3 linked regions of the Homo sapiens genome follow. The protein of the gene in region 3 interacts with the protein of the main gene of each other region in a biochemical or structural test. Each region holds a gene or a part of one and is shown on either strand. Other genes may lie near its edges. The genes, in order: CRHR1, KCNJ4 and MAGI3.

Region 1 (3,650 bases), on a different chromosome or scaffold from region 3:
GGAGAGACCGAGGGCAGTAGCAGCTCCAGGATAGATATATTTGTGCCTCTGCCAAATATCACCCTTCAAAGATTATTCATTGCAGCAGCATTTGTAATAACTAAAGACTGAGAATAAAGACTGGTTTAAATAAGTTATGGTACATTTTGTGATATTATGCAAATGCAAAAAGAATGAAGATGCTCTTTATGTACTGATATGGAACCATCTCTAAGATAGATGATTATATGAAAAAAGCAAGGTGTAGACAGTGTGTATAACATGCAACATTCAGGTAAAAACAAAAAAGAATACGTATACAAAATTACTCGTGTATGCGGAGAATGTCTCTGGAAGGACACTTGTGAAATTGGCAAAATGGTTGCCTCTGGGAGGGAATCCAGTGGCTGGGGACGGGGTGGGAGGGGACATTGTATTCCCATTTGTACCTTCTGAGTTCTGTGTAAGCAATATCTGCTCAAAAACATTTAACATTTTAAAAGGCTTTCCAAGGGCTTTTTCAAACTGCATTGCTACCTCCATCCCGTCCCTGGTTTCCATACAGCCCTGTGGCTGGAACTGGATGTATCTCTCAGGCATGTGTTGTGGAAAAGGGTGGGACTCCTGTGACCGAGTCTGGTCTCCCTTTGCACCCCCAGGACAGTCCCATGCCCAGTGCAAGCGGCTGCCCGATGAGCACAGGGAGAAGGAAGGAAGGAACAAGGACCCATCTCATCACCATCAGAGCCTGCCCAGTGCCCCATTGGTCCAGCCTGCCCTCGAGGGCGCCTGCTCATGGGCCTTTTCCAAGTTGACAGCTCCAGCTCCCCAGTCAGCTTCACTAGAGCAGGGCCTTGACATTAGCCTCTGGCTCCCTGACTCCAAGTAGCAGGCACAAAACTCTGCTGGGGACCCTGGACTCCCCTCCATATGGGCAGCCTTGTTCGGCTCAGCCTCACCTCCTCATTGAGGATCTCCTGGCACTCGGAGTAATTCACGCGGGCGGCCCAGCTGCCATTGGCCAGGCACTCCCGGTAGCCATTGTCTGGAAAAGGAAGAGAGAGGCAGTGATGGCGGGGCAGCCCCGGCCCCTGCCTGACCATCCTGGCCCAGATGGATGCGTAGATGGATCTGTAGATGGCCAGTACAGGCACCTGCTGGCTGGGGGTTGTGTAGTGAAGCTGGGGAGAGGGGCTTCCTTACCACCCCCATCTTCCTGCCTCTTTCTGCCCATTGGCCTCCAGCAGGGGTTGGTGGCTCCCCCGGCTCTGCCCACTCAAGCTGGCATGATCATGCCCACAGGACTGGCCCGTGGACAGGCTTGACCAGCTCCCTGGGCTGTTCCTTTGCAAGTCATTATGTGGTGGCAGATGACAGGTAGGTGCTCTTCTGAGAAATCTCCTTTTCAGGGGTCTTGCAAGACAGCAAAAAAATGGTGAGACCTCATGAGTCAATTTTCACGAGGCTGGGCATGACACGGTGGAAGGGTATGCGGTGACAGCTCGCGTGGCAGGTGGCATGACAGGGCTTCTTGTGGTAGAGCCATCTCACAGAGGCTGCCGTGGGAGGTCCTCACTGGCTGTGCTGCACATGGGGGCTCAGAGTTCATGGGGCAGATCTTGGGGAAGGTCCCATGGTGGCACTTCCCCATAGCGGGCCTGTGTTGGAAGGTCGTGGTCTGTGGGTGGGGGGAACATCCATGATGGAGGTCTCTTGGACAGAAAATGACAGGTGACAGGCGTGTGTGGGGAGATGTCATCACTCAGGTCTGTCACAGCTGCTCCTAGCCTGGCCCATGTCACTCAAGGAGGAAGGCAGGAGAGTGGCCCAGGGACATATGGAGGTTTGTGCAGCCACCGGCCTGGACTGTGGCCCAGAACCTGTCACCTTCTAAGGAGATGGGGAGGGGCCCTGTGAGCTGAATTGATGCCTGGCTTTAGGGCCCTGGGATGGGCAGAGCTGCCCAACGTGTTCCCCTTACCCTCCTTCATGCCTACCAGGCTTGAGCTCCAGGGTCCTAAAACCTAGCTGGGAAGGGACAGCATGAGTTCTAAATTCCATCTCATCTTCTCTGCTGGCAGAGGTTGCCCCACCCCACCCTGTACCCGGCTCTGGCATCAGTAGCTCTAAACATGCTTCCTTGAGTTAATTCTGGCTCTGACTTCAGGCAGAACTGCCTGGCAGAGAAATGAAGCCCTGAGTATCTCACCTGGAGCCTCCCTCACTGTAGGCCTTCCTGTGGCTCCCAGTGGCCCTTGGGGCTGGAACAGGGCTGGGAAAGCTGCTGGAGTCCCAGTCCTTGAGTCTGGAGCCCCATGGGGCAGAACCCTGTGAGGATCTAGAGGCTGGGGCCCTGGGACCAGCTGAGCTGCTGCCGTGCTGCATGACTGACCTCTGGGGACCCCTTCTCATTTATAAAAGGAGGGGCTGGACTGGCTGATCCCCAAGGGACCATCCAGCCTGGGAGCTGCCTCTGCTGGCAGCATCAGGACAAGAAGGTGATGATAGGGAGCCCGTCCTGGCCTCCAGGGCTGAAAAGTAGATGTGGCCTCTCCTCTCTCGCACTACTCCCCTCCATTCCCCTCCCTGGTCCCCCTGCTGAGGAGCTGCTCAGCTACAGCTGGCCAGTGGGAGATCCGGCTAAATGGATTTTTAAAGCTCTTCCATGTCAGTGGACCGCAGTCTCAGGGAGCCTCAGGCCCTTGGGCAGAGTTGGTGAAGAGGCTGCTGATTCTCTCCAATTGCCAAATGAGGGATGAGTTACCGGAGGGCTGAGGCTCACCCAGTGGGTTTTCATGGAGGTCTGAGGGGAGGGTGAGACGAGGAACCAGGAGAACCCAGTGTCTCTGCCATGGCTGGGAAGTCCCGGGACCAGAGGCTGCTCTGAAATACCTCCAGGGATAGGGGCTTTGGGACAGAGATCCGGCTGGAAGGGGCCCGGGGGTGGTGGGATGGGGTGGGGTGGTTCTTGAGTTAAGAGGCAGCATGGAGTAGTGCTAAGAGCGTGGCCCCTGGACCCAGACAGCCTAGCATCAAATCCTGGCACTACCTTCCACTAGCTGTGTGACCTTGGGCAAATCCCGAAACCTGTCAGCTTCCTCCTCTGTAAGTGAGAGCATCTGAATAGCAGCTCCTACATCAAGAGTTGAATATTTTTAGTTAACATGCACAAGGTGCTTGGAACTGTACCTGGGATGTGATGTTGGCTGTTATTTTTATTATTATTGTCTTGGAGCTGTATTTATATAACCTTACGTGAGACTCAGAGCGTGTCCCTTGTCCCCATCAAAGGGTACCGGTGGATATTGTGGGAGGAGCCCCTTTGCTCAACACCCTTGCCCCCCTTGACATGTGGGGGAGAGTCAGGAGTCCCATCAGAGGCTGGGTCACCCAGAGGGAGCAGGCTTTGATGGGGAGAAAGGAGGTGATCCGAAAGAAAGCAGGCCCAACAAGCAGGGAGCCGTTGCCAGGGAGGATGCGACCTCCTTGTCTTTAATTGCTGAGCTGAGCAGTCCTCCCAAAGAATCACGGGAAAATAGATATTTTTGGAAATGCTTCCCATCCCTTTGAAGATCAGATGCAGCAGGAGGGAGGGCATTAGGGAGAAGGCCTAGAAGTCCTGGCAGCAACTCATCAGTAAATGGATTAATTAGTGCTTAATGATGAGGTGC
Region 2 (3,650 bases), on a different chromosome or scaffold from region 3:
CCCTGGGAGCCATCAGGACACAGAGGAGTCAGGAGCAGCTCCGGGTTGAGAGGCTCTGCCACCATTGCTGAGTGACCCTGGGCAAACCCTGGTGGTCTCCGGACTCGGTTTCTCCATCTCCCAGGAGAGGAAATGGAGAGAAGGCCAATGCAGCCGCAGACAGGAGCTGCTGGGCCAGGCTTGGTGGGGGCTTCTCCTCCATCCCAGTCCCAGGGAGCTCCTCCGCCCAACTGCACCTCCCATGCCCCAGCTCCCCTCTGCCCTGCTGGGGGCCCCCCAGGCCTAGACCAAAGCTCCCAGCTGACAGGTCACCATTACAACGCTGACTTCTCCCTCCACAGCTCCTGCTGGGGTCGGGAACACCAAGGACCCCCTTTCCTGGTAGCCCCTAAGGACCTCTTGACCTGCCAATGTCTCTCTGGGGCACCTCACCCTCCCCTGCCTGCCAAGGCCAGACGTCCCAGCTGTTGGCACCAGGGCTGGTCAGGGACTGGCCAGCAGCCACAGGGAGGAGTGGCTGAGCTGTTGCATGGAAGGAAAGGGGAGGCCTAGGCTGGCAGACATGTACCCACCTCCCTTCAGGTGGCCAATGAGGGTCCTGGAGGGGCTGGCACTGGGTGCACAGTAGGACAAAGCATCTGTGGCTGTTTCCACCCAGGAGCCTGGAACCAATCCTTGCTTCTCTCTGAGCCTCAGTATTCTCATCTGAGAAGTGGGGGTGATGGTTCTCCCAGGGTGGTGGAGGATTAAGTGAAATCATGAATATGAAGCCCAGCGCTGAGCCTGGCACTCAGCTTCCCTCCTGCAGCAATACCCTGAGAACACTGCTCTCACCCCAGCCACCAAGCAACGGCACCAGCCATCTGAGCAGCCCTCACGCATGCGCATGCGTGTGTGCCTGTGTCTGTGCCTGAGCATGCACGCGCAGGCTGAAAGGGGGCTGCGAGCAGGTGGGGCAACGGGTGCAGAGGGAGGGGCAGGGGCCACACGCCAGCACTCCTCCCCACCGGTTTCCCACCCTGTGTGTCCCAACAGAGAACAGTGGTCTTAGAATCAGGCAAAACCCATCCATTCAAATCCAGCCTGTTTCCAGCCAGCCACTTCCCCTTGCTGAGCCTCAGTTTCCCCTTCTGTAAATGAGAATCATCTATGTCCAAAGTCTTCCAGGTTCACGACAGGGACCCCGTGTTGGGCCACGGGGCCAGGATTGGTCAAGACCTTTGGGAGTGGGGGGCCAAGACCAGAGCAAGCCAGAGCGTGAGCTCACCCCTGCTCCCCATGCTGCACCCCACCCACCACCCCGTGAGCGCCCGTGTGCGCGCCTGCAGGAGCGCGCGTGTGTGACTCAAGGTCTATTCATAGCCGAGCTCCACCAGCTGCAGCGTCACAAGCAGAGGGGCCTCAGCCCATATTATTATTTCAATTACCATCTGAATTAAAAGTTTGAGCAGCGATCAGCCCACGTAGCGAGGGGAAGAGGGAACAGGAGAAAAATAAAGATGAAAAGGAGAAGAAGGGCTGTGACTGGCGATCCCCCACACCCCAAGGAGGGCTGAGTCCGCAGAGGAGGCTTAAAGGTTATGCCAACCCCTAGGATTCCCGCCTGCCCCTTGCCAGGACCCACAGTCCTCCCATCGTTGGGAGGAGCGCTTTTCGACAGCAGCCCAACCACAGCTACTCGGTGGAAATAGATCTTTCAGCCCAGGTTCACATGGATGGGTGGACATCACTCGGAGAGGGTGAGGGACTGACCTAAGGTCACACAGAGAGCCACCCAAGGAAGTTGTCTCCAAGACCCTCTCCTGCCAGCCAGGTCCCACTGACCTCACCAGGCTCTGTAGCACATGTGCCATTTCCCTTCTGCTCCCCTCTCCCTGCGCCGATAACTTTCCTCCTGCAGCCCTAGCTTGGAGCCAGCCCTCTCTCAGCCCTCTGCATTCCCGACCTCACACCTCATGCCACCACCGTCAGCCCAAAGGCCCCTCCTCACTCACTGGCACAGGGGACAGAGCCCTGGGCCAGGAGACAGGCAGCCTGGCCCTAATCTAACTCTCTGGGCACCTTCGGGCAGGTCATTCCTTGTCTCTGGGCCTCAGTCTTCCCATCTATGAAATGAGTTCTCCCCTAAGATGCATGGTGGTATCTGTCTTCAGAATGGAGCCCCCAGAGGAGCCAGAGGATCCCTGAGGGGGTGTCACGCTGTGGGGGCGTCTAGACCATCTCCTGCCAAGCCCCAGCCCCAGGGAGGAACGTTTTCCACTCTTTCCCCAGGGAAGCCCCAGAGACAGCCCCCGAGAATCAGACTAGTCTGAACTCACACCCAGGCTCCTCTGCTGTCTTACTGTGTGACCCTGGACAAATCACATAGATTCTCTGAGCCATGGCCCTTCCATCTATAACACGGGGACATCAAATCAACATTGCCATGGAGAATTAAATGGGAATTTGCAAAAGCTCCTAGCCCAGTGCCTGGCGAGCAAATGTGTTTCCTCGCTGGGAAGCGGGGAAGCGATGGGCACTGCTTCCCAGCTCCTCTTTGGGAAACACCAAAGACTCCTAGGATTTTGGAAGTGGGGATGTTATTCGGCCTCACCCGTAAGGCGAGAGTCACCTGGCAGGTGCTCATCTGGCTCTGCTTGAATACCTCTAGGATTGAGGAGCCCACTATCTCACAAAACAACCACAGCTGCTCCCTATCTTGCTCCACCTCCAGCTCTGGGAATTTTCTAGAATGGAGCATAAGCTTCCAGTTAACCCCAAATCCAACCTGTCCTTGCCTGGGACTGCCTGAAACTGGCTTTAAAATGAGACTGAAAGGAGTTCTTCAAAGAGACCAATAGAGGGAGGGGATTAGTGCCCAAGGACAGTGGGGTGAGGGGATCTGGAGAGAAGGGAGGGAGAAAGGAGGTGGCCGAATTCAGAGCTGGGCCCTCAAAGCTCCTGGGTCCTGTCTGGGCTTGCCACAGTGTTACACAGGGACATCTGTCTGTCTGCTTCCAGATAGAGCTGGGAGCCAGAAGCCCTGGATTCAGGCCCTGGCCCTGCTTCCTCCACCCCCAAACCATCACTGTGACCCTCATGGGTCCACTTCCCCCTCAGGCCTCAGTTTCCACTTTTGTAAAACAATGGCCCTGGCTCTGCTTCCTCCGCCCACAAACCATCACTGTGACCCTGATGGGTCTACTTCCCCCTCAGGCCTCAGTTTCCACTTTTGTAAAACGAAGGCATCAGACCAGTGATTTAAGCTCCAAACCTTCTGTCTGAATCCAGGCACCCTCCCACTCTACCCTGTCCAACCCCTGCCCAGCATGCTGGATCCACGGGCCCCTGAGTGTCTATGGTTTCAGAGTCAGAGGCCTTATCTCTACTCCTGTCTCCTGCTTTCATAGCTGTTGCCTTTGAGGATTCTGTCATCCCCATTTTACAGGTGGGGAGATGGAGGCATGAGGCATTGAAGCCAATTGCTCAAGGTCACAGAGGGTGATTTGAAATCCAGGGCTCCCTCCTCTGGGCCCAGGAGAGCCGCAGAACTTAAGGGCACCTTCTTTCAGGAGAATCGCCAAGATCTTAAGTGGCCAGCCGTTCTCTATACAGATGTGGACTCCACATGAGGCAAGGGGCTGCCCAAGGTCACAGAGCAAGGCACTGAC
Region 3 (3,650 bases):
ACTCATGCAGATGTTGTCCAGATGTTTCAATTGGTACCTGTCAATCAGTATGTAAACCTCACTTTATGTCGTGGTTATCCACTTCCTGATGACAGTGAAGATCCTGTTGTGGACATTGTTGCTGCTACCCCTGTCATCAATGGACAGTCATTAACCAAGGGAGAGACTTGCATGAATCCTCAGGATTTTAAGCCAGGAGCAATGGTTCTGGAGCAGAATGGAAAATCGGGACACACTTTGACTGGTGATGGTCTCAATGGACCATCAGATGCAAGTGAGCAGAGAGTATCCATGGCATCGTCAGGCAGCTCCCAGCCTGAACTAGTGACTATCCCTTTGATTAAGGGCCCTAAAGGGTTTGGGTTTGCAATTGCTGACAGCCCTACTGGACAGAAGGTGAAAATGATACTGGATAGTCAGTGGTGTCAAGGCCTTCAGAAAGGAGATATAATTAAGGAAATATACCATCAAAATGTGCAGAATTTAACACATCTCCAAGTGGTAGAGGTGCTAAAGCAGTTTCCAGTAGGTGCTGATGTACCATTGCTTATCTTAAGAGGAGGTAAGTAAAAGCACAACATAGAAAAAGTTTCAGTGTTCAAGCGTTTATATCTACTGATTGTCTTTCCTTACAGTTTAGAATGTGTTTTCCCAGCAGACTTAACTAGTAATTAGTGTGCATTTTCCTTAAGGTTCTGTCTGATTGTTTCCATAAGCAGTGTCTTTTTCAGCAGTTTTTAAAAAATTATTAGTGATTTCATTCATGTCCATTATGGATTTATTTCCCTCTGTATTCTTTTGAAAATCTGATTCATGGCTTTAATGATTAGAGAGAGTCACAGCATTGTGATACTTCAAATGAAATACATCCTCTTAATTTCATTTCTCTGTTGATGACAGTAATAGAAATTGACTCTTTCAACCAATGGTGTGTCATCTGGACCTCTGTAATGCACCAAAGATGTTTTGAAAGAGCTAGCATCTCTGTGGATAAGTAAAATGTTGGATGGTGTATTAATCTGTTCTGCAGAGGCAATCATGATAGCATGTGCTCATAAAGTTTTCATCTTAAGCTCTAGTATCTGACTGTAAATGTTAATTAAACCACACAGTGCTTATGTGAGAGAAATATAATTTTTATTTTCCAAGGTCATCAGCTGACATGAACTCCTCCCAGACATTTACAAATTCAGTTCCAAGGAATAATCACAAAGTTGAATTTTAATATGCTTTCTTAAATCCATACTTATAAGTGACTAGTATCTTAAAGAATAAAAGCCACTTACTCTTTTATCTCTCTGGATTTTACTTTTCACTATTGAGGCAAACGAGCACTTCAGCTTCTTTGGGAGTTGTTTCTTATTCTCGTTTCTTTGATTCACATGGGTTTCTTCTCTGAGTGATGGTGGAATGTGCTCCAAGTAAGGTAGAAATCTCTTTGTGAGTGCTTGAGAGTAATCCAGGGCTTCAACAAGTATAACAAAGACACCAAAGTTCAATGTCACACAGGTTTGATGTCAGTTTCCTGCCTTGCCACTTACTGGTTCTTTGGTATAGGAAAGAATCTTAGTTTACCTTCTCTGTAAGATGGTCATAACATTTGTGCCTTCAGATTGTTATAAAAATGAAATGAGATAATATATGTATAATGCCTGGTACATAGGAGGTTAGACACAGAATTTACTAGCGTACTAAAAGTTGAAGCTAGTTTTATCGTAAACATTAGCAGTATTTGTGATCTGGGAATGCATCCTCTGGTTTTAAACTTTGGTTCATTTTTTTTTTAAGGTCCTCCTTCACCAACCAAAACTGCCAAAATGGTGAGTATACACTGGTCCTCAAATCTTTTCCCCAACACACTGAGAGAGATGCCACATTCCCCTCTGTAAGAGGAGCTCACTGTGGTGATGATTATCGACTGGGAGAAGTTAGGAGGCATGCTGCCCTTGGCTTGTATTTATTAGAAACTAGGGAAGCGTTTGAAAAAGCCCCCTAGTGAGGAGATGTGCTCCACTGGTTAAGTATTGCAACTGGAGGATTACTAAAGGCCTATTGTACCAATAATCCTGTTCTCTAAGTTATAAAATGTGAACACATTAAAGAACCAACCTAGAGGTCTTTTTACTTTTGTGTTTCAGAGAAACAAGGTAGGAAGGACCTAAATGTTAAGACAGATGATAAACTATTACATCGTCTTGCCCCTGCCTGAAGAGAAGACGTACTAGTTCACATAATTTTGTGGGGACTATAAATATGCATGCACCTTTAGATAATCTTCTTACTTTTAAGACTAAATTAGGCTTATTTTTTTATTATTTATTTTTTATTTATTTATTTATTTTTTGAGACGGAGTCTTGCTCTGTCGCCCAGGCTGGAGTGCAGTGGCGCTATCTCGGCTCACTGCAACCTCCGCCTCCGGGGTTCAAGCGATTCTCCTGCCTCAGCCTCCCAAGTAGCTGGGACTACAGGTGCACGCCACCACACCCAGCTAATTTTTTTGTATTTTTAGTAGAGACAGGGTTTCACCATGTTGGCTAGGATGGTCTCAATCTCTTGACCTCATGATCTGCCCGCCTCGGCCTCCCAAAGTGCTGGGATTACAGGCATGATACACCACGTCCGGCTGACTAAACAAGACTTTCTAGAGTAATTGTGGCCTTCTATGCTAAATTTGCTTGTTGTCAAAGTGAAAGACCTGAAACAGTGTCTTCTTTGGCATTCTTCTAAATAATCACGTAGCCTGTTTAAGGACCTGTGCAGAGAATAAGAACTTTAAAAAGGAGTGCATCAAATGCTGCTGTTGTGGAAGAAACTCTACAAGGTGCACATTTGTAGCTATTTAAATATCCACAATGTTTTGGATATAAAGACAATTTTATTTAAAATTCTAATTTAGTTCTAGTTTGCTCCTTTGGAGTCTTTTATCTCAAAATCAAAAGATGGCCTTCCATAACCATAAACTATAGACAATTATATTAAATGAATTAGTTCTTTCTAGCCCACCAAGTAGGAATCCTCTGCAAATTTGCTGTTTTATAGATTAAAAAGAATCCCTCAGCTTCTGGCCTTTTTTTTTTTTTTTTTTTTGAGACAGAGTCTCACTCCATCACCCAGGCTGGAATGCAGTGGTGTGATTTTGGCTCACTGCAGCCTCTGCCGCCTAGGTTCAAGCAATTCTTGTGCCTTAGCCTCCCAGTAGCTGGAATTACAGGTGCACGCCACCACACGCAGCTAATTTTTATATTTTTGGTAGAGATGGAGTTTCACTACATTGGCTAGGCTGGTCTCAAATTCCTGACCTCAGGTGATCTGCCCACCTCGGCCTCCCAAAGTGCTGGGATTACAGGCATGAGCCACTGCGCCCGGCCAGCTTCTGCCCTTTTCATTGACTGCTTATACTACTTGGGTCCAGTGTGAACAGAAATTGTTTTTGTCCATTCAGTTCAAATTGCACTGTATTCTACATTTCTCTGGTTCCTCTAGTAATCATTTTTAACTCCTGTGCCACCATATTTATTTCATAATGGATGCCACTGCAGTCGCAGTGGCCCTAATGCTTTATAATTGATGGAAGGGTCTGATGAACTTTAACCGCCTCTGACAGAATGCTAAGATGTATGGGGAAGGGTAGGAGACTACTGTTAGCTTC

The links.
Region 1: the proteins of MAGI3 (region 3) and CRHR1 form a complex in vitro, tested with the Homo sapiens proteins (2 studies listed by BioGRID and IntAct, with this or other methods).
Region 2: the proteins of MAGI3 (region 3) and KCNJ4 interact in a test that uses a peptide from one of them, tested with the Homo sapiens proteins (one large-scale study listed by IntAct).

What each region holds. Positions count from the first base shown.
Region 1 is NC_000017.11:45,818,729-45,822,378, reverse strand, and holds part of CRHR1 (corticotropin-releasing factor receptor 1 isoform 2 precursor), read right to left. Parts: intron 1,025-3,650; coding exon 939-1,024; intron 1-938.
Region 2 is NC_000022.11:38,448,644-38,452,293, forward strand, and holds part of KCNJ4 (inward rectifier potassium channel 4), read right to left. Parts: intron 1-3,650. UniProt on the Homo sapiens protein: Inward rectifier potassium channels are characterized by a greater tendency to allow potassium to flow into the cell rather than out of it.
Region 3 is NC_000001.11:113,641,955-113,645,604, forward strand, and holds part of MAGI3 (membrane-associated guanylate kinase, WW and PDZ domain-containing protein 3), read left to right. Parts: coding exon 1-562; intron 563-1,788; coding exon 1,789-1,820; intron 1,821-3,650.